Homo sapiens: one gene and its partners. The protein of the gene in region 2 interacts with the protein of the main gene of each other region in a pairwise test. Each region holds a gene or a part of one and is shown on either strand. Other genes may lie near its edges.

Evidence for each region.
Region 1: the proteins of ARFGAP3 (region 2) and SYPL1 interact in binary tests that used the Homo sapiens proteins (3 or more experiments, as listed by UniProt).
Region 3: the proteins of ARFGAP3 (region 2) and PRDX6 interact in binary tests that used the Homo sapiens proteins (3 or more experiments, as listed by UniProt).

What each region holds. Positions count from the first base shown.
Region 1 is NC_000007.14:106,095,290-106,102,402, forward strand, and holds part of SYPL1 (synaptophysin-like protein 1), read right to left. Parts: intron 3,994-7,113; coding exon 3,869-3,993; intron 2,609-3,868; coding exon 2,401-2,608; intron 1-2,400.
Region 2 is NC_000022.11:42,847,249-42,854,361, forward strand, and holds part of ARFGAP3 (ADP-ribosylation factor GTPase-activating protein 3), read right to left. Parts: intron 385-7,113; coding exon 266-384; intron 1-265.
Region 3 is NC_000001.11:173,480,335-173,487,447, reverse strand, and holds part of PRDX6 (peroxiredoxin-6), read right to left. Parts: intron 6,123-7,113; coding exon 5,966-6,122; intron 2,088-5,965; coding exon 1,941-2,087; intron 1,194-1,940; coding exon 1,047-1,193; intron 1-1,046. UniProt on the Homo sapiens protein: Thiol-specific peroxidase that catalyzes the reduction of hydrogen peroxide and organic hydroperoxides to water and alcohols, respectively. Can reduce H(2)O(2) and short chain organic, fatty acid, and phospholipid hydroperoxides.

The DNA of each region.
Region 1 (7,113 bases), on a different chromosome or scaffold from region 2:
ACCTAAAAATTAATGTCATATTTGGCTATATCTTAAATTTTGGGTATCTCAAAAAAAACCTTTTTTTTTTTTTCCCCTGAGATGGAGTCTTGCTCTGTCACCTAGGCTGGAATACAGTGGTGTGATCTTGGCTCACTGTAACCTCCACCTCCTGGGTTCAAGCGATTCTCCTGCCTCAGCCTCCCAGTAGCTGGGATTACAGGTGCCCACCACCATGTCCAGCTAATTTTTGTATTTTTAGCAGAGATGGGGTTTCACCATGTTGGCCAGGCTGGTCTCGAACTCCTGACCTCCTGGAGTGATCCACCCACCTCGGCCTCCCAAAGTGCTGGGATTACAGGCATGACCCACTGCACCCAGTCTCTCAAAGAAAATCTTTTAATATTTTTATGGTTACATTAAAAATAGAACTGAAAATTAAATTTAGAAGCTAGACTTTTATAGACAAGAAGCACCCATTATGTAACAATAAAAACCTACTTAAGGAATTTTGGATTATCTCTTTATATGACCACTAATTGGTCATTCTGAGGTGGAAAATTACTTTTTACGTTTCTGAATGATGCAACTAGGTCAGTTTTATAGTTTTATCAGACAAAAACCACCTACAAAAATAGATTGGAATGCTGCTTTAAGAAGGGTAGTATTTTTAAAAGTTTACTAGACAAAATATGAGAAATAAAGGGCACACTGATAGATTTAGTAAAAAAATTTGTTGGGATGACAAAATGGCAAGAAATAGCTTCTAGTTATAAAGAATTTTAACAAAATATAATTATCTATAAGATTATTCCAGTTCCCTTTTAAATAAGATTTGAAAAGTCTGCAGAAGACACAGATTCCTAACAAGTATGTTGGATAAGCACTGCAAATTAAAACAGTTGACGTCTTATCTTTTTAACAACCGAGAAGTATTTTATGAAAACCTCTAGTTTTCTTGTGTCTCCTATGACATAAGAAACAGAATTAAATATGAATGATAAAAGACTGTTGTATTACTTACCATTTCCATTCTTATGATCCAGCAGCAAAATTAAAAATAAATATGTAAATAAAACTTGTAATGTTATTTAATAATCCTTCATATTTAAATAGCCTTCCCTTTAAAGTAACTTCACAAATAATTAGCAGATGTGTTTTCTCATACATATGAATGACCAGTATCACACATAAAAAACACCTCTGTTTTCCCTTTAAGTCACTAATAACTGACTTTGTAGTTACTCTTTTATAGTGGAGGTGTAGCTTAAAACCATGATTTCTCTCTGGATTTGCCACCAATAATCCAGGGCAGATTCTACTAACTAAATCTCAGAGAATATTTCTAGCTCAGTAGGCTCTGAAGCCAAAAGTATAGGACTTCAAATCTAAGTCCTTTGTTGATACCTCAAAGATTCAAAATTAGTTCATGGTTGCCACTAATGCTGAGTATAAGAATTACCTGGGTCTGATTTTAAATTAAGGAGTTTAGGGACATAGACCAGGAATCAACAAACTTCTTTTGAAAAGGGCCAAATAGCAACTATTTTTTATCTCTGTTACAACTACTCAACTTTACCATTGCAGTGTGAAAGCAGCCATAGGCAATGTGTAAATGATTGTGTATGGCTGAGTTCCAAAAAAAACCTTTATTTAAAAAAACAAGGCCAGGCTCCTGGCCACACCTATAACCCCCAGCACTTTGGGAGGCCAAGGCAGGCAGATCACTTGAGCCCAGGAGTTTGAGACCAGCCTGGGCAACATGGTAAAACTTCGTCTTTACAAAAATACACAAAAAGTAACTGAGTATGGTGGCTTGTGACTGTAGTCCCAGCTACTCAGGAGGATCATTTGAGCCCAGGAGGTTGAGGCTGCAGCAAGCCAAGATGGTGCTACTGCCCTCCTGCCTGGGCGACAAAGCGAGACCTTGTCTCAAAAAGTAAATATATAAATAAAGAAGTAAAAATAAAAAATAAGACAGTGACCTCTGGGACATAGTTTGTGAACCCATGATATAATTAAACTCAATAAGTTTTGTAGAAGTATAAAGTGGGCCTTTAGAGAAAGAAAAAAAGTAAGAAGCAGAAAGAGTTATGAGACTATGTTGTGATAAGTAATTCTTCAAATTAAAAGAATTTCGACTTAATTTTTTTGCTATTTGTAACCTGATGTGCTTTATTACATATCTGAGTTTTTTCCAAGTTAAAATAGATTTAAAAAAGAAATAAACTTTCCTTATAGTGCAAATAGGCTAAAAAAAATTGAGTTAAACTTAATGGGAGAAAGCTCAACCTCGTGGCAAACACAGGCTAAAATATGCTGAACTGGCTTACACCAAGAATTTTTATTTCCAGTATAAGAAAATCTATATTTAGCTTATACAAATTATTTTTGTATTTAAAAAATAAAGTGATTACTTACTATCATAGGAAGTTTACGACTATCCAGATACAGACTCGTGTAGCCAACATAAAGCAGAAGGGCAGCAATGCAGTACAGGAACACAAAGACTGCAAAGGTAACATAGAATTGTGCAGAAGAAGAGTAATCGCCTATGAGGACGTAATCTTTCCAATTTACATCACATATGTTTACACCTGGAGGTGGCTGAAATGATGCCTCATTCAACCTATTAAAATAAATGTATGAATTATTGGACTTTCCCAACAGAGACAGAAACATTTAAGCAAAACAATGAGTGACACTTCAAAAAATACTCCCCAAATATATTAAAAACATTCCTTTGGGGAAAAAAGTAAAATTCAAATATTATATTTAAGTAAACTGAAATTTTCATAATAAATGTATATGTTATACCTGGTATTAGTTTATGATACATTGAATATAGACTGAATTAAATACTTTCATACCCAGATACTATCTTCCTGCAGTAAACAATTAGGTAGGAGAGATTATACCAAATGGTTTATACTTTGAGACATCATATTTCATTCTGTGTGGCAGAGTATGTGTGACTAGCCCCAAGAGAGCCAATCACAACAATGATTCACATTTTTAACCCTGGATCAATAGTTGCTAACAATAAATATTGCCTTTCATTTTTCCCAACCATAAATTGTAAAAAACTTGTCACTAAAGATGCTGTAACAGTCCCTTATGTGAGAAGTGTCTAGGAGAAAGGATACAAGATAGAGAGGCTTTGATGATTAACCACTTATTATCTGACTTATCTTTAATATGGGGATTTTATTTAATCATCAAAACAGCCTTACAAGATAATACTTCCAATTACTGGACCAAAAAATTGAGTCTTGGGTGAAGTAAGTAAAATTAGTAAGTGAAAGAAGATTCCCACCCTGGCTTAAACACAGGACATATTCAATAAACTTTTCAATGGATACTGATGTCAAACAAGACTTCACAGATGAAATACTCATTTTACTTTAAGAAAGTGTGGCTTTATGCTAATGAATGAAATATGGAATCTCTTTATATACATATGTCTTAAAACTATATAAAGACATTAATATTCAGCAATTACAAAAAACACTGAGAATCTGGATTTTTCTAAGTTATGTTTCCTTCTACATTAGGGCTTCTTATACTAAGGTGATAGAACAATCTCTAGTTTGCTTTATTTTTACATTTCCAATCCTCTGTTAGAATAAAATTATCAAGGCAACATCACATTGTTATAAAAGTTTCTAAATGCTTACTCTCACTTTCTGTACTATTTTGTCACAGATCAGGAGATGTTTTTAGACAGGCATGGGTCTGTGTACCACAGTTTGGGAGGTAATGATCACTTACAAATGAGCATACAGTCTAAAATTTTCTACCCCCCACAATCAATAAATTGCTGGAAATCTTAATGACTCACTGTGAAAGTAAAAAGAGTTGTGAAACCATTAAAATAAATATAACTCACCTGAATGGATAACCAAAAGTAGCTGTAACAGTTTTATTCTCAGTAACTGCAGGAGGACAATTCACTTGAATTTCTGTTTGGCCCTTAAAACCTCCACAGGTGGCAAAAGCAAAGATAGAAGCAATCTACACAAAGTAAGATGAAAAAAGACAAAAGAAAAAAAAGATAAGCAATACTACAACCAAAACAAGGGTCACTAAAACTGTAAGCACACTGATTATTAAAAATTGGCTAACATTCTAGAAATTCTTTTTTTGAGACAGGGTTTCTGTCGCCCAGACTGGAGTACACTGGCACGATCAGGGCTCACTGCAGCCTTGGCCTCCCAGGCTCAAGTGATCCTCCCACCTCAGTCCCCCAAGCAGCTGGATCACAGGTGTGCATCACCACACCTGGCTAATTTTTCTTTGAATTTTAGTAGAGATGAGGCCTCGCTATGTTGCTCAGATTGGGCTTGAACTCCTGAACTCAAGCAATCCTCCCATCTTGGCCTCCCAAAATGCTGGGATTACAGGTGTGAGTCACTGTGCCCAGCCCCCACTACCCTTTTTTAAAGAGATGAGTCTCACTCTGTTGTATAGACTCAAGTGTAGTGGCACAATCATAGCTTACTGCAGCCCTGAACTCTCAAGTGATCCTCCCAAGTAGCTGGGACTAAGGAGTGTGCCACCATGCCTGGCTACATTCTAGAAATTCTTAAACACAAACTAAGATGGTGAAAGACATTAAAACATTCATTTGCAAACCTCGACAAATGTGATTTTATTTTCCCCGGAGTATAATATAGAAATAAATGTACCAGCCCATATGACAATTCATTTGCTCATACTTTAGTGTATCCACTAAGTATTAGTATGAAATATAGAGGGAGACTCATTTATTAGTATAAAATCAAAAGGGGTGAATTGGAGGTATTTTTATTTGGAACACAAGTTACCAGTAATTTGTAAAGCCAAGAGGTTGTCAGCAGAGAAGAGACACTATTTCATGAGCCTGTTAAACCTCCCTTGTGGGTATTTCCAGGTCTCAAAAAGTTGTTGGAAACTTATTTTCCTAATCATGTATATGCTTAAAAAAATGAATGGTGTTCTCTCAAATACCATCTAAAACACAAAAAACCTAGAAGCAACCTAAATGTTGACAGGGAATCAAACTATAATTCATCCATTCATTCATTCATGCAATGAAACATTATATAGCTGTTGGAAATTAACAACATAGAATGTTGGAGATTAACAACATAGAAAGTGTTCATTACATACAAAGTAGATTTAAACAACAAAAACTAGAAAGGTTATGCATCAAAATTTTAACACTGGTCACCTCTCAAAGGAAGATAAATAATTCCTTTTTATTTTTGTACTTGTGAATTTTCTACAAAACAACACAAGTAAGCAAAAAATTCCAGATGCGCTGTTAAAGTCCAGGAGCTCAATCTTTCAGCAAGTGGTGATGGCTCTATTTTCAAAATACATTTGCAATCTGACCACTTGTACTGCCTCCTGATCTGAACTACCATCACCTTTTGCCTGAATTTTGCACTAACAGCCTTCTAAATGATCTCTCTGCTTCTGCCCTTGCCCCAGCTTCAGTCTGTTATCAACACAACAGCCAAGACAATCTTTTAAAAATGTAAGGCAGAAAATGTTATCCTTTGCTCAAAACCCTCCAATGGCTTTTGAGCTCTCTATGAATAAAAACCAAAGTTCATATAAAGGCCTGCAAGATCCTTTCTTCCCTTATATTTCTGACCTCATGTTGCTACTTTTTCCTTTACCTAATCTGTATACACAAACTGCTTTCCATGCGATACCTTTAATGACACGGGATAAACTCTTCCTTCAGGACCTTTGCACTGGCTATTTCCTCTGCCTGGAATACATGCTTCACTCCCTCACTTCCATAGCTTCCTGTTCCAGTATGACCTTCTCAGAGAGACCTTCCCCTCACCACACTATATCAAATAACAGCACTCCTACCCCGCACTACCTATTCCCTCTACTCTATTTCTGCTCTGTTCTAATTACCACTGCTTGACACAGTACTTAATTTGTCTGTCTTTCCCTAGAATAGAAACTTGAAGAGGTCAGGGGCTTCGTTTTGTTCAAGGTCACACACACTCAGCAACTGGTAGTAGATAATATTCAATGCAGATTTGATATCAAATATTCACTGTGGAACACTTGACATAATGCTTCCCATGGATTATTCCAGGGCCTTGAATCTTGTAGGCCATAATCCACATTATAGTAATTGTCAAGGGTTTGTTTTTTCCCATCCGCCCCCCCCCCCCCCCCCCCCCCCCCCCCCACAAAAAAGATACATGAAAAGAATCTGGTTACAGATAGGAAGAGTCTGAGGTAATGTCCAGCACATAGTTTGGGGTCTTAACTGTTAAGAGGTGATCCCCAGTTTTTACAGGATTTCAAAATATGTAAAAGTAACTTTCCTTGGAAAATGTGTCATGAAATCATTTTTCATTATTTGTACTAAATAATGTTTTATGTTAAAAAAGAAGGTAAAGATGGAAGAATCAATACTCTCTCAGAATAAATATGCATGAATACACAGAGTGAAAAGGCCAGAAAATGAGTCCTGAGCATATACCCACGTTTAAATTAAAAAAAAAAAAAAAGAAAAGAAATGAGATACACAAATTGAACCAATGGAGCAGAATAAAAAGGCCAGGAATAGACTAGTGTGTATAAGACAAATTGTATCTAACAGAGTTGATTTGTAGATCACGGAGGAAAGGAATGTGGTGGTTTTAAAGATATGCCCACAAACTCTTTGATACAACTCCCATCAAGAGATGGAGCCTGATTTCCCTTCCCTTGAGTGTCAACTAAATGTAGTGACTTGCTTCTACAGAATAGAATATGGTACTGTAGAAGAAATGGGATGTCTTTTCTGAGACTCAGTTATAAAAAGATTACAACTTTTTTTTTTTTTTGAGACACAGTCTCGCTCTGTCACCCAGGCTGGAGTGCAATGGTGCAATCTTGGCTCACTGCAACCTCCACCTCCCAGATTCAAGGAATTCTCCTTCCTCAGCCTCCTGAGTAGCAGGGGTAATTACAGGTGCCTGCCACCATGCCCGGCTAATTTTTGTATTTTCGGTAGAGACGGGGTTTCACCATGTTGGTAAGGCCAGTCTCGAGCTCCTGACCTCCGGTGATCCACCCGCCTTGGCCTCCCAAAGTGCTGGGATTACAGGCTTGAACCACAACGCCCGGCCAAAGATT
Region 2 (7,113 bases):
CCTTGACTCCTGGGCTTAAGTGATCCTCCCACTTCAGCCTCCTGAGTAACTAGGACTAGAGTTATACATCATCACACCACAACATTTTTTATTTTTTGTAGAGGCTGAGTTCACTTGAGCCCAGTGAGCTATGATGGCACTCCTGCAGCCAAGGTGACAGGCGACAAGGCAAGACACTGTCTCAAAAAAAGAAAAGAAAAAAGGGAAAAAAACACCCATGTAACAATGTAATCAATCTCACCCCAATGAGAGAAGATTCACTTACCGAATAAAACTCAAGTGAACACCAAGTGACCGGTGGGACCCTGAGCAATCAATGCAAAGGAACACTCCATAGGTTATGCTTGCCCAGCTGGGATTTTTGGCACCACAATCAAAACACACCTGAAAAAAAATGTTAAATTCAGTTACTAATTTATGTTAGCCAAATAAATTATCCTGTAAGATACAGTAAATGACTTAGCTTGAAAACTGTTTAACCTTTACAATGTAAACTTTGGGATTGTATTATTAGAAAATATCTCACCTAGGTTTTTTTAAAAGCCTCAAATTTCATGCTCTTTTATTATTATATATAATTATATTAATTATAAATTAGTATAGTTAATTACTATATTATGTATTTTTTTATTCTGAGACAGAGTTTCGCTCTGTCACCCAGGCTGGAGTGCAATGGTGCAATCTCGGCTCACTGTAACCTCTGCTTTCCAGGTTCCATTGATTCTCCTGCCTCAGCCTCCGGAGTAGCTGGGACTACAGGCTCACACCACTATACCCAACTAATTTAGTACTTTTAGTAGAGATGGGGTTTTACCATGTTGGACAGGCTGGTCTCGAATTCCTGACCTCAGGTGATCTGGCAGCCTCGGCCTCCCATAGTGTTGGGATTACAGGCACGAGCCACTGTGCCCAGTTTACTACATGATTTATACAGTATATTACAGATTATGTTATATATATATTTATCTATTTATTTTTGAGACGGAGTCTCGCTCTGTCGCCCAGGCTGGAGTGCAGCGGCACGATTTCGTCTCACTGCAAGCTCCGCCTCCCAGGTTCATGCCATTCTCCTGCCTCAGCCTCCTGAGTAGCTGGGACTACAGGCGCCCGCCACCGCACCCGGCTAATTTTTTGTATATTTAGTAGAGATGGGGTTTCACCGTGTTAGCCAGGATAGTCTCGATCTCCTGACCTCGTGATCCACCCGCCTTGGACTCCCAAAGTGCTGGGATTACAGGCGTGAGCCACCGCGCCCGGGCTATCATGTATATATTTTAACAATGCACACTATACATAGTGAAGAGAATTTAGGTTTGTGTACCATCTCAAACATGCCTTATCCTTGAAGCATCAGCAGGGATCCTACCAGTCATGTAAAGGAATGCTAGTGAGGGAAGCAGCCCTGCCTAGAAACACTCCAGCCCTACCATCCTTCCTGGCAGTGGCTATACCAGATGGCAGGCTGTTGAGCATATTGCTTCTCTCCCCAGCCAGAGGAAGAGGTTGTGGCAGCCAGACTCCAAGATGGCCCCAGTGAAACCCACCTCCTGGTATTTGCATCCCGTGTAATCTCCACCACCCTCACTTTACCAAGGTGATCTGTGTGTCTATGTGTATATGGCAGAAATGACCATGTCATTTTTGAGATTGGGTTACAAATGACACTATGGCCTTTTCCTGTCTCCCCCACTCTCTTTTTCTCTCTCCCCCTCTCTCCCTCCCCACCTTGGATCACTAGCTCTAGGGGAAGCCAGGTGCCATGTCTTGAGGACACTCAGGTTGCCCTGTGGAGAGGGTGAAGTGCTGAGGAGTTGAGGCCCCCAGTCCAACTGCCAGCGAGGAGAGGAGGCCTGCCAACCACCATGTGAGTAAGCTCCCAGATGACCTCAGCCCTGGGCCAACAGCTTGACTGCAGCCTCATGAAAGACCCTGGGTCAGAAGCAGCCAGCTAAGTCACCCCCAAATTCCTGACCCTCAGAACTATCTGTTGTTTTATGATGCCAAGTTGGGGGTGATCTGATACACAGCAATAGATGACTAATACAGAGAGATATTCCTTTATGAAATGCTGTGCCCTTCTCTACCTCCACTGCCTCACTCTGTCCAGGTCACTTTGATAACTCTTAGATGCAGGTTCATAACCGAGGACTACGTTCCCTGCCCACTGAGGGCACTGAGAGCTCTTACAGGGGTAGAATCTTTCCCTTTTGCTAATCTTTATGGCTTTTTTTCTTTTTTTTTTAAGGAGACAAGGTCTGGCTCTCACCTAGGCTGGAGTGCAGTGGCACGGTCCTAGCTCGCTGCTTTATGGCTTTTTTTTTTTTTTTTTTAAAGAGACAAGGTCTGGCTCTGTCACCTAGGTTGGAGTGCAGTGGCACGGTCCTAGCTCACTGCAGTCTCGAACTCTTGAGCTCGAGCCATCCACCCCCCTCAGCCTCCTAAGCAGTTAGGACAAGTGTATGCCACCGTGCCCAGATTTTTTTTTTTCTTTTGTAGAGATGGGGGTCTTGCTATGTTGCCTAAGCTGGTCTTGAACGCCTGGGCTCAAGCAATTTGGGCCCTCTCGGCCTCCCAAAATGCTAGGATTACAGGTGTGAGCCACCACGTCCGGCTCCTGTCACCTTACTTTCCTGTCCACTAGCACAGAACCTGCACATGGTAAACGCACAATAAGTGTTTGCTGAATAGTTGTGTACTTTTAAATCTCACACACAGCCTGAAAAATAGGCTTACCCATGGTAAGCATTCAGTAAATATTTGTTACTCAAAAGAATAACTTTAAAAACGTATTGCCAGCTCAAAAATTACTAGCCCCTTCAACACTGACACTGAAGCCCAACAGGAGCATAAAAGTACTTTAAAATACACAGTGCTAACTAGCAGAGTCACGCGTCGGAAGTGTGCTGGGCCCATAAAATACACAGTGCTTGTTGTGGAAAGTAGTATTTATAACTCATTAAACTCCGAATAGGGAAAAAATTCCTCTAATAGAGGTGTTTTTAATCTTTTTGCAGGAAAAAAAAATACATATTAGATATATAGGCTGGGTGCAGTGGCTCACACCTGTAATCCTAGCACTTTGGGAGGCCAAGGCAGGTAGATCGCTTGAGCTCAAGAGTTTGAGACCAGCCTGGGCAACATGGCGAAACCCTATCTCTACCAAAAAATTAAAAAAATTAGCCGGCGTGGTGGAACGTGCCTGTAGTCTCAGCTACTCAGGAGTTTGAGGTGAGAGGATCGCTTGAGCCTGGGAGGCGGAGGATGCAATGAGCGGAGACCACTCCACTGCACTCCAGCCTCAGCAACAGTGAGACCCTGCTATCAAAAAAAAAAAAAAAAAAAAAAAAAAGATATACTTTATAGGCAGAATCACTTATGTGAAGGTTGTCCAACCTATCATTATCAAGCAAGATCTGGCTTCTGGTCTTTTCAGGGCAATACAAGGGCAATACAAGAGAGGAAACACGAGTGGGTTTTCTAAAGCCCCTCACCACAATATGCTCACACTGATCGCACACTGAATAATCGGGGTGGAGTGACAACTGACACAAAAAGAGGCCAGGAGATTTACTTTGGTGTTTACTGATCACCTGCTGTATGTCAGACATGTGACAGGTGATGAGGTATGAAAAAGTAGCAGCACAAACACTAGCTGAACGCTTATTGGTGCTAGTCTTTAAAGAGCTCACTGAGAAGTGGGGAAGACAGACGCGCAAATTCAAACGCCCTGTGGTGATGGCCATTAGGAGAACCCTCTTCTGTGGGGCATCAAACAAAACGACAGACTCTGCCAAAAGGTGCTGTTCTTCCCCGTCAGGCTGTGTGTAATTTCTCACCTAGTTACTCAACTACCAGTTGCTGTGCACTTACCATCAAGTGTACCTGGCACATACCAAGTGGACATACCAGCGTGGTTCAGGAAGTCTGCCCACATGGAGCCCACAGTCTAGCAGTCCAGTGGGCAAGACAATTAGTTACAAGATTGTTTCCTAGTAAGCAAGGACAGGATGCAAAGGGTTTTTGGTAGAGGTGATGGCAGAGATTTTGGGTACACAGCCCAGAGCAGGCCAAGTTTGAGAATCACTTCTGAGGTGGTCACCAGACTGGCTACAAGAAGAGAGCAGTGAGGTTCCTAATGAGGCAGGCAGCTTTGGCATCCTCCGGACCCATCACCTAAGCTAAGGGATTGCTAAAATGTAGCCCCATGAGGGGGGGGCCATGTCTACCTTATTCACCTGAGCTTGGCACCATGCCTGGCACAACACAGGTGCTCACTAAATGCGAATGCACATGGTGGAGCAGTTTATAGGGGTAGAGGAGCTAACAAGTGGAGACTGGGACGTGTGGAGGTCAGAAGTGGTGAGAAATACAGGTCTGGCTCCCATAAATGCTGCCTTGATCCTCCTGCTATACCAGGAGGCTATGCTTTGGAAGCAGGGACTGCGCTTTGATTTGATATGCAATCCCAAACCAAAGTCAAGATGTGGCTTTTAAAGCAGAACATCAGTTCTTATGGTGATGAGCAAGAAATAGCTTTTGACTGACAATTTGTTTTGTTTAATGATGAGAATAATTAGTATACAAATAATAATAACAGCTAATATTGAGTGTTTAATTCAGGCACTATTGTTGGCACTTTAGCCAATTTCATCTTCCTAACAACGCTTTCATTAGTAGGGTACTAGTAGAAGGTACTATGATCATCCCCATCAGGGCCAGCTTCCTGGGCATGTGTGTGATCTATGCAGTCGCAGAGGGCCCCACACTTAGAATAAAAGAGTGTGTGATTGGCTTAATGCTCTGCTGTCTCATCTTGAAATTCTTTTTTTTTTTTTTTGAGATAGGGTCTCATGCTGGAGTATATGATATGATCTCGACTCACTTCAACCTCTGCCTCCCGAGCTCAAGCAATCCTCCCACCTCAGCCTCCCGAGCAGCTGGGACCACAGGCATGAGCCACCATGCATGGCTAATTTTAATTTTTTTTTTTGGTAGAGATGAGGTTTCACCATGTTGCCCAGGCTGGTGTCAAACTCCTGAGCTCAAGCTATTCATCTGCCTCGGCCTCCCAAAGTGCTGGGATTACAGGCGCCACCGCGCCTAGCCTCATCTTGAAATTCTTTTTTTTTGAGATAGGGTCTCGCTCTGTCGCCCACTCTTGAGTGCAATGGCGTGATCTTGGTTCACTGCAACCTCCGCCTCCTGGGTTCAAGCAACTCTCCTGTCTCAGCCTCCCGAGTAGTTGGGATTACAGGCACATGGCACCACGCCTGGCTAATTTTTTGTATTTTTAGTAGAGATGGGGTTTCACCATGTTGCCCAGGCTGGTCTCGAACTCCTGAGCTCAGATGATCCACCCACCTTGGCCTCCCAAAGTGCTAGGATTACAGGTGTGAGCCACTGTGTCTGGCCGAAATTCTTAATACTGTTCAAACAAGGGCCCTGCATTTTCATTTTGTACATTTCACAAATTATGTAGCTAGTCTTGATCTCCATTTTATTTATTTAATTTTATTTTATTTGTGTGTGCGTGTGAGATGGAGTCGCTCTCTGTTGCCCAGGCTGGAGTGCAGTGGCGTGACCTTGGTTCACTGCAACCTCTGCTTCCTGGATTCAAGCGATTCTCCTGCCTCAGCCTCCCGAACAGCTGAGATTACAGGCACTCGCCATCATGCCCAGCTAATTTTTGTATTTTTGTAGAGACGGGGCTTCATCATGTTGGCCAGGCTGGTCTTGAACTCCTGACCTCAGGTGATCCACCCGCCTCAGCCTCCCAAGGTACTGGGGTTACAGGCGTGAGCCACCGCGCCCGGCCTATTTATTTGTTTTTTAAATCAATGAATGTTTTCTTAATTCTGATTCCTTTTATCATGTGCTTTCTTAAACAAAGAACTTTCACATAAATTATCTTATAATAAGAGTTTCTTTCTGATTCAGTTTAAAAATGACAATAGCATTCGTTGTGCCCAAGTTAGAATTATACCAAAATTACCATATGCCAGCACATACAATCATTCCACTGGTGGCTGGAAAATTAGCTTACGGGAGTGTCTGTCACTCAGATGGGCCATCACCCCTGGTGGGCACATGGTGGAGATAAGGGAAGGCCAGACTAGAAGAAAGCTGGGTCTTTTGGATCGTTTCTACTCCTTTTTCACTTCTTCACCATTCTCCCCACTGAGCTTGAACAAGGGAATCTGCTGGCCATCCTTGGGCTCTAGGAAGACCTCATCAAGGTGCCACCTCTGAAAGGGGCACTTCTGGATGAGCTGACATGGAGATGGCCCTCTGACTTGGATCCAGAGCTAGGAATCTTCAACTTGGCATCAGCAATGTCCACAAAGTTGTGCTTGGTGAGTTTGAGACAGTGAATGTTGAGAAGAGGGCCCAGAGCTCCCTGTGCCTTGGGATGGCTATGCACCTGCTCCAATGCCAACTGGTAATACAAAGCCCTGGAAAAAGTCTTTTGTATGCGGTAATACACAAGGGCCAAGCCCCCAGTACCGAACACATTGCCGAAAAGGACCATTTTTTCCTTGAGGCACTGGCATCCTGCTGCCTGGATACTTTTGCCACCTCACAGCACAACTCTCTTGAAAATCATCAAAGGCAAGTTGTTCTGTAAGCGACAGAAGCACCATGCTGCAGAGAGCATGAGGAGCCCTTCCGGGCGTGGGATGGTGGCGGTAAATCTTGATCTCCATTTTAAAGAAAACTAAGGAATTACTGAATTAAGTATGACAGATAAGAAGTGGCCACTGCTTAGTAATTCCTTAGTGGAAATGCCCACAATGGGGACTGGATCCCATGCAGTCTGTTCCCAGAGCCACTCTTCCCGCTCCACCACACTGTGCTTCAGAGCAGAAAACATACCACCTGCCGTCCTGCATCTGCCCTTCATCTGTCCACTAGACTATAAGTTCCCTGAGGACAGGAACATACCATCAGTGTACATACCTTTCATGCTCTACACAGTGCCCAGCATAGCATAGGTGCTTAATGAATACTTGTTGAATGAATAACCCAATCTATATAAAAGTAAGGAATGGTATAGCAACAAAGAAGGATTTCCACAAACAAGAAAATTCACCCTTGGCCAGGTGCGGTGGCTCA
Region 3 (7,113 bases), on a different chromosome or scaffold from region 2:
GAATCCTGCCTCCTCTCATCTCTTGTCCCTCACCCCACCTTCTGCAGCTTCTTCTCCAAGCATGCTAGCTTTCCTTGTATTCCTCCAACATGCCAAGCTCACTTGTAGGCCCAGTTTCTTGCACTAACTGCTCCTTCTGCCTATAGTGCTCGTCCCTCACAAGTATACATGCCTTGGTCACATCTTCTCTGTGTTTTTCTCCAAAGGTCCCTTCATAGACAGGCATTCCTTGACAGTCACTCTCCCACCCCTGTGCTGTTATTCTCCCCATCTGTGCTTGATTCTTCCCTGTAGCACCTGTTATCACCACTTAATAAACTTGTTTACTGTTTGTCTCCACTCACTGGAATGGAAGTTCTATGAGGGCAAGGACTTTCTATTATTCACTGCTATCTCCCCAGTTCACTACTATCTGGGCTCAATAAGTACATAAATAAGTAATAATAAGTTAACTAGTGGATACAGAATTTAAGTGATTTGTCTGTCAGAAAAAAACAAAACAAAACCTGCTATTCAGGTTAGCATTATTTTAAAAATGTAGCAATGTTAAGATACTCTTGTGATGTTATCCATGTCCTAAAGATGAAAAGTTTATGAACAAATTTTGGAGAATTCTAGCACAGGTTTAAAAGAATGAAGCTTAAGAGAAATTAAATACTTAATGACATTAATACACCAGTACTTTTACAGCCATGACTTAACGGAAATGGCCAATTAAGATTGTGCGATAAATATTTTGCCATCAGGGAAGGGTTAGATAAAATTTTTTTTTTTAAACCTTCTATTAGGAAAAGGAATCATTCTGACCAATAATTTTTCCAAATTATCTAAAAGTTGGAAAGCCATATAGGGAGTTTGTGTTGTGTATAAAAGGTGTTATAAAGACCTTGAAAAGGGCCTTTCAGCAAATCTTGAACTCAGCCATGAGGAAAAATCCTCCCAGTGTACTTGCGTGCTAGAAACAGGTAACACAGACCTTGAAGTTGGCCATTTAGAGACTGGCCCTTCAGGCAAGTAGAGAAACTGCTTTTTAAAAACATCTTTACCTTCCAATCAACTGGGGTGGCAACCCTTTTTTCTGCTGTCAGCTGGAGAGAGATGACTACCCTGAGAATCTCATCAAAGTTCCTGCCAGTGGTAGCTGGGTAGAGGATAGACAGCTTCAGCTTCTTATCAGGACCAAAAACAAACACCTGTAAAGCACAGAGGGGCATAAATAGGAAGAGTTCTTTGAGTGTTATTAAAGCCACTTAGAAAGCTCTGCAGTCATTAATAATGTTCAAGGGTATAAAAACAAGACAAAAACAAAGCATCTAGAAGGATACACCAACTGCTAATGTGGATGGCTGGAATACAGATAATTTTCTTCTCCCTGTTATTTTCTAAACGTAGAAGGGAATTCTATTTGGTTCTGGCTTTCCCAGTAAGAAAAACTGATATGCAAATTTAATCGAGGGAAAGGCTGTGTCAATTGGGGATGACTATCATAAAAATAATACTAATGGGAGTTGATATTGTTCCTTGAATAGTTGTGCATTTATTCAGATGAGGGATTGGGTTTGTTTTCTAGTGGGCGGAGGACAGAACAAATAAAAATTTAAAACAGAGCTGCCTTATGAAGAAGGATATGGCCCATCACTTTAAAGACAGGGCGGTCAGGAGAGCAGTCAGGAGAGCTATGAAAAGGTTTCTCAATTCTGGAAGACATTTTAGGATAAACAACTTTTTTTTTGTAGATTTCCATGAACTATGAATAAAGCAGTTGGAAAATTTAGCTGAAAATTGCATCAGCATTACAGATAATCAGTGATATTGTCGCCAATACACAGTTATTTCATAATCGTAGATATTCCCCTATCTCCTCTAGCTGGTACCAGCATTTACACGGACATACAGCCTGATCAGTTAAGCTAACTACAAAATGAATTTGTATGACCTACCACACGAGCTGTCACAGGCATGCCCTTTTCATCCTTCTCTGCTGGATCCAGCATGCCCAACAGGATGGCAAGCTCCCGATTCCTATCATCGATGATGGGAAAAGGTAACTTTTCTGTGGGCTCTTCACAATTGTAAGCATTGATATCCTGAAACACAAGTAAAAGGGGAAAGAGGAATCTAAACCCAACACATGCTCTGAATTTCATCAGTTAACAGCCATCACCTTGCAAGACAGGAAAGAGGACCAAATCACAGTAATTTTCTTTAAGCAATTTTAATTTTAAAAAGTGAGTAGATGAACACTCTTCATTCCAATTATTGCCAGGAATAACAGCAGAGTACAGTACTTAGGTTGTAATCATGGACCAAAGCTGTTTTCATGCCCAGTTCTCTTAAATTCAGCATGCTTTTACTGCTATGAGAAAATAGCAGCAACCCCTTTAAAATTGCAATAATTTAGTTAGATCCAAATACAAGGTACCTCTGGGTACCCAAATACTGTAAAAATCATCAGATAACAATAGGTTTGTTAAATCCATCACATCTAGAAATAATGCCATATGTAAAGAAAATCTTATAGATCTGGTCCCTACCTCATAAAGCACCCTGACTCAGATGCTAAGTTACAAGACAAATAAGAAATGACCAAAAAAAAAAAAAACAAATCACAAAACAAAGCAAACACAAGAATGGAGAGTTGAATATATACTTGAAGGACAAGTCAAAAATAAATGGGTGAAGAGGCAGAAGTAAACCTAAACTAGGGTGAAATTCAAAGAGAAAACAAAGCATTTCAAGTCTGAACTAAAGAAAAATGATACACTTCCCTCCTTCCCTAGTAAAACTTTATTCATCCATTTATTTCTACTTTTCCTATCCCTGGAAGCTTTTGGAGAAAAAAAAAATCTAGTTTTGTTATTTGATTAAGCATTGATATAGCACTTAAGGTGGGCTAAGCATTATGGTAAATACATGTGGAATACAGATGAGTAAGACACGGCTCCTCCCTTCAAAGGAACTTCTCATTTGGTTAGAGATGATTCCAGTATGAAGCAGCAGCAAATGCAAGACTAATGTTAAATGGTGGATGGTAAATACTGAAGTATACGAACACTCCCATTTGTAGGACTCCAAAAGTTACAAAAGGCTTCAAGAAAAGAACAGGACTTCTATCTAGGCCCTTGAAGGATGGGTAAGATTTTTCACAGAGAAAAGAAAGGCATTCTAGGAATCAGGAACTATATATATATATGCACACACACATATATATATGTGTATATATATTATATACGTGTGCATATGTATATATATGTATGTGTGTGTGTGTGTATATATATAAATATATATATATATAAATATATATATCTAATTTTTTTTTTTTTTTTTTTTTGAGACAGAGTCTTGCTGTCGCCCAGGCTGGAGTGCACTGGTGCGAACTTGGCTCACCGCAACCTTGGCTCACTGCAACCTCCGCCTCCCAGGTTCAAGCAATTCTCTGCCTCAGCCTCCTGAATAGCTGGGATTACAGGCACCCGCCACCACACCGGCTAATTTTTTTTTGTATTTTTAGTAGAAACGGGGTTTCGCCATCTTGGCCAGGCTGGCCTTGAACTCCTAACCTTGTGATCCACCTGCCTCAGCCTCCCAGAGTGTTGGGATTACAGGCGAGAGCCACTGTGCCCGGCCAGGAACGATATTAATGAAACATGTGGGCAACTCTGTACATAAACTATTGATAGGAGAGTGAGGAACTTAGTTGGATAGAGTTTAGCAAGTAATGGAAAAGAGGATTTAAAATTGGAATAACGTCTATTGTGTGTAGGCTTGAAAGTAAAACAGGGGCTTGATGGCATAGCAGATACAAAACCATTGTGGATTTCTCAACGGAGATGTGACAAATGTGGCATTAATGAGCTCTGAAGTGGATAACAACAAATTCTTTTTATTTATTTATTTTTTTGAGGTGGAGTCTCTGTTGCCCAGGCTGGAGTGCAGTGGCGCGATCTCAGCTCACTGCAGCCTCCACCTCTCGGGTTCAAGCCATTCTCCTGCCTCAGGCTCCCGGATGATAACAAATTGTAACATTCCTTCATTTTATTATCTTAACTTTCTGTTGTCACTGGCTGCTTATGAAGTCACCAGAGCTAAATAATAATTAATATAGTCTCATGCTAGAGGCAGATTATTATATAATCAGTTGTTTGTCAAAGTTGCGGCACTGCTTCTGATAGTTCAGACTTTTTTCCTATTCAATGTAATCACAATTCTGAAAACTTCTAAGGCAGAAGCTCAGCAGGTAAAATAAACCTGAGTATGCGTCTGTCCTTTAAAAGGTATTATATAATGGGCTATAACCGCTTCCTTTGGCAATATGTCACTTTAATTATTGCTGTGCACTAATTCTCTACTCTGCCACTTGCATCATGGGCATTAGATTACACCCATGAACACCAAAGAACCTATCCTAAATTATTTGGCTTTATTCTATCCTAAATTAGGCTAAATCCTACTCTTTATCATCTTGCATTAAAAAGAACATTGATTTGAGGTTGAAATCTCATTGCCATTGGGCAGTCTTGGGCAAGTCCCTCCAACTCTCTGAGTGAAAAAAGTATGTTCAACTGCAAAAACGAAAATGAAAAATGATAGCAAAAACTACAGTTACCACTCACTGAGAAGTGTAAGGAATGAAAAAAAATTCTACTTCAAGACAGATAACTGCCCTTCTTTTTTCTCCTACACATGATTCTTCTAGTCTCAGATATTTAGGATTAACTGGCATTAACTGCTATAGGATGCAGCCACAGACCCCTAACTCACAAGTCAATACATCTTTTATTCAACTGCACGTTTGACATAGTTTCTAGTATACATCCCTCAAAAAGTAGTTATCATTATTACTTAACAGCACAGTGCAGTCAAGTTCTTAAAATGTTTTCAAGGTAAATTCAGACCACCAAATTTACTGTTCAAGTAAATTCTTTTGCTAGAAGTAGGTATTTCCTTCAGTTAATTCATTCAACAAATATTGACTGATCGCCTAGGATATACTGAGTAGTGAGCATTGTTCCAGCAGTGCACTAAACAGGAGTCTCTGTTCCTGCTGAGTTTATACTCTACTAGGAAGAAACAAACAAACTAAATAGGTAGTATGCAGAGTGCTGAGGAGAAGGGGATGGTGAACGTGAAAAGGAGTTATAATTTTAGATAATGAGGACAAGAAAGGCTTTGATGAAATGTCCTGTGAGTTGAGACCCAAAAGAGGTGAGGGTAAGTCACACAGATCCCTGGGAAGTGAGTCTTCTATCTATGATACAGGACATATTTTGAAGGTAGAGCTGACAAGTTTGAGGATAAATCAGATGTATGATGTGAAAAAACATGAAGAATTCAGAATGGCTCCTGGATTTGGGGTGTGAACAACTATAAAAATGTAGTTGCCATTAGCTTAGATGAGTAAAACTCTGGATCTAAGAATGAGGCCTAGTTAGACATGCTAGGTTTGAGATGACTGGACATCCCAGGAGAGATGCTAGGTAGGCAGTGGTTATATGAACCTGGAAGAGTCTGGCATAGAGATGAAAATTTGAGAATCACAGCACATAGATGGTATTTAAAGGTGAGTGGATGAGCTCACCAAGGGAAAGAGTGCAGACAGAAAAGAGATGAGGTCCAAGAAATAAGTTCAGGGTAACTTCAGCATAAATTAGGAGTTGGGAGATGAAGAATCAGTGAGCAGGAACAGCTAGAATGTGGTGTCCTGGAAGTCAAGAAAGGAAAAAGTTTCAGGAGGTACAGTGATCAGCTGGGTTGAATGCTGCTGGCAGGCCAAGAGGAGGGCTGAGAATTGACTGACCAATGGATTTAGCAATGTGATCACTGTGTGGTTCAACTGAAATTTTCAAATAATTAGTGAACTTTGAACCTAAGGCTTACTTGTACCTTAACCTCAAAACCAAGTACTCCATAATTTATAACTTGACCTATAATCTCAGGCTCAAAGCACATGCCAATTGATACTAACCTTGCTCCAGGCAAGATGGTCCTCAACACTGTCTATTGAAAGGGCAATCAACTTAACATTCCTCTTGGCAAATTCTGGTGCCAGCTTTGCAGCTCTGCCAAGCTCTGTGGTGCACACTGGGGTAAAGTCCCGAGGGTGGGAGAAGAGAATGCCCCATCTGAAAGGAAGAAAAACAAGGTCACAATTGAATTAAGAGTTATCACCAACATCACAGAGAATGAAAAGTCACAACTTCTGGATCAAAAACAGGCTTTCTTTTTTAAATGAATGCTTATGATGATATTTACTTTTAAGCTTTTCTGTTGAGGAGTGCTTTTCAATCTACTTACCTCCAGAGAAGCCTATGCTTATAGCCCAATTCAATCAAAGACATGAAATTCAAGATGACACATATTTAAAAAGACTAATGTTAAGGTGTTGCCTCCTTTAATAATTATGGTGCCACCCTGACTCCTTTTTGGCTAATACAATCTGTGCTATTCAAGCCAAGTAGTTCACTGAAAACACTTAATTATTTCTTCTTATCCTTTTCTACATTTTTTTCTAGCATAGACCCTGACATTCAGCTCCAATAATGGATGTCCCAGTATGCCCTGAATCCAAACAAATGCCTGACTGCAATAATAAACAAATTATGTAATCTGAAATAAATAGGTTTCTATCTTCTATTTATATGTAAAAATTAAAGTTGACACTTGGCTTCTCTGAAGCAAGTGGATATAAAATCTTTTGTAAAACCACTTTACTGATCTTACCTGCCAAACATGACACCCAATATTTATACTCTGACAAAACAATAGCACCTTCACAGTTTTACCTATCTCTTCATTTGCAGTTTCTTTTTCTTCTTTCTTCAGACCAAGCAGGTAGAATTTTGATAGCCTGCAATGTAGATTTCTACAACAGCAAATTCTTAGGTAAATACTAATATCTAAGTCATCATTGTCTAAGATTTTATAATTTTGAGCACATTTCAAGCTGTCACGAAGAAAGCTGAAGTACCATTTCCTTCTTCTTGGCAACAGAAACTACTCTTTCAACTGAAAAGGAAAATTTAACACTCAGTTCTCCACATCCCCATCAACTTAAACCATCCTAAACCAGATGATTTAGGCAGGATCCTAAACTAGTAGATAACTAAATCTAGC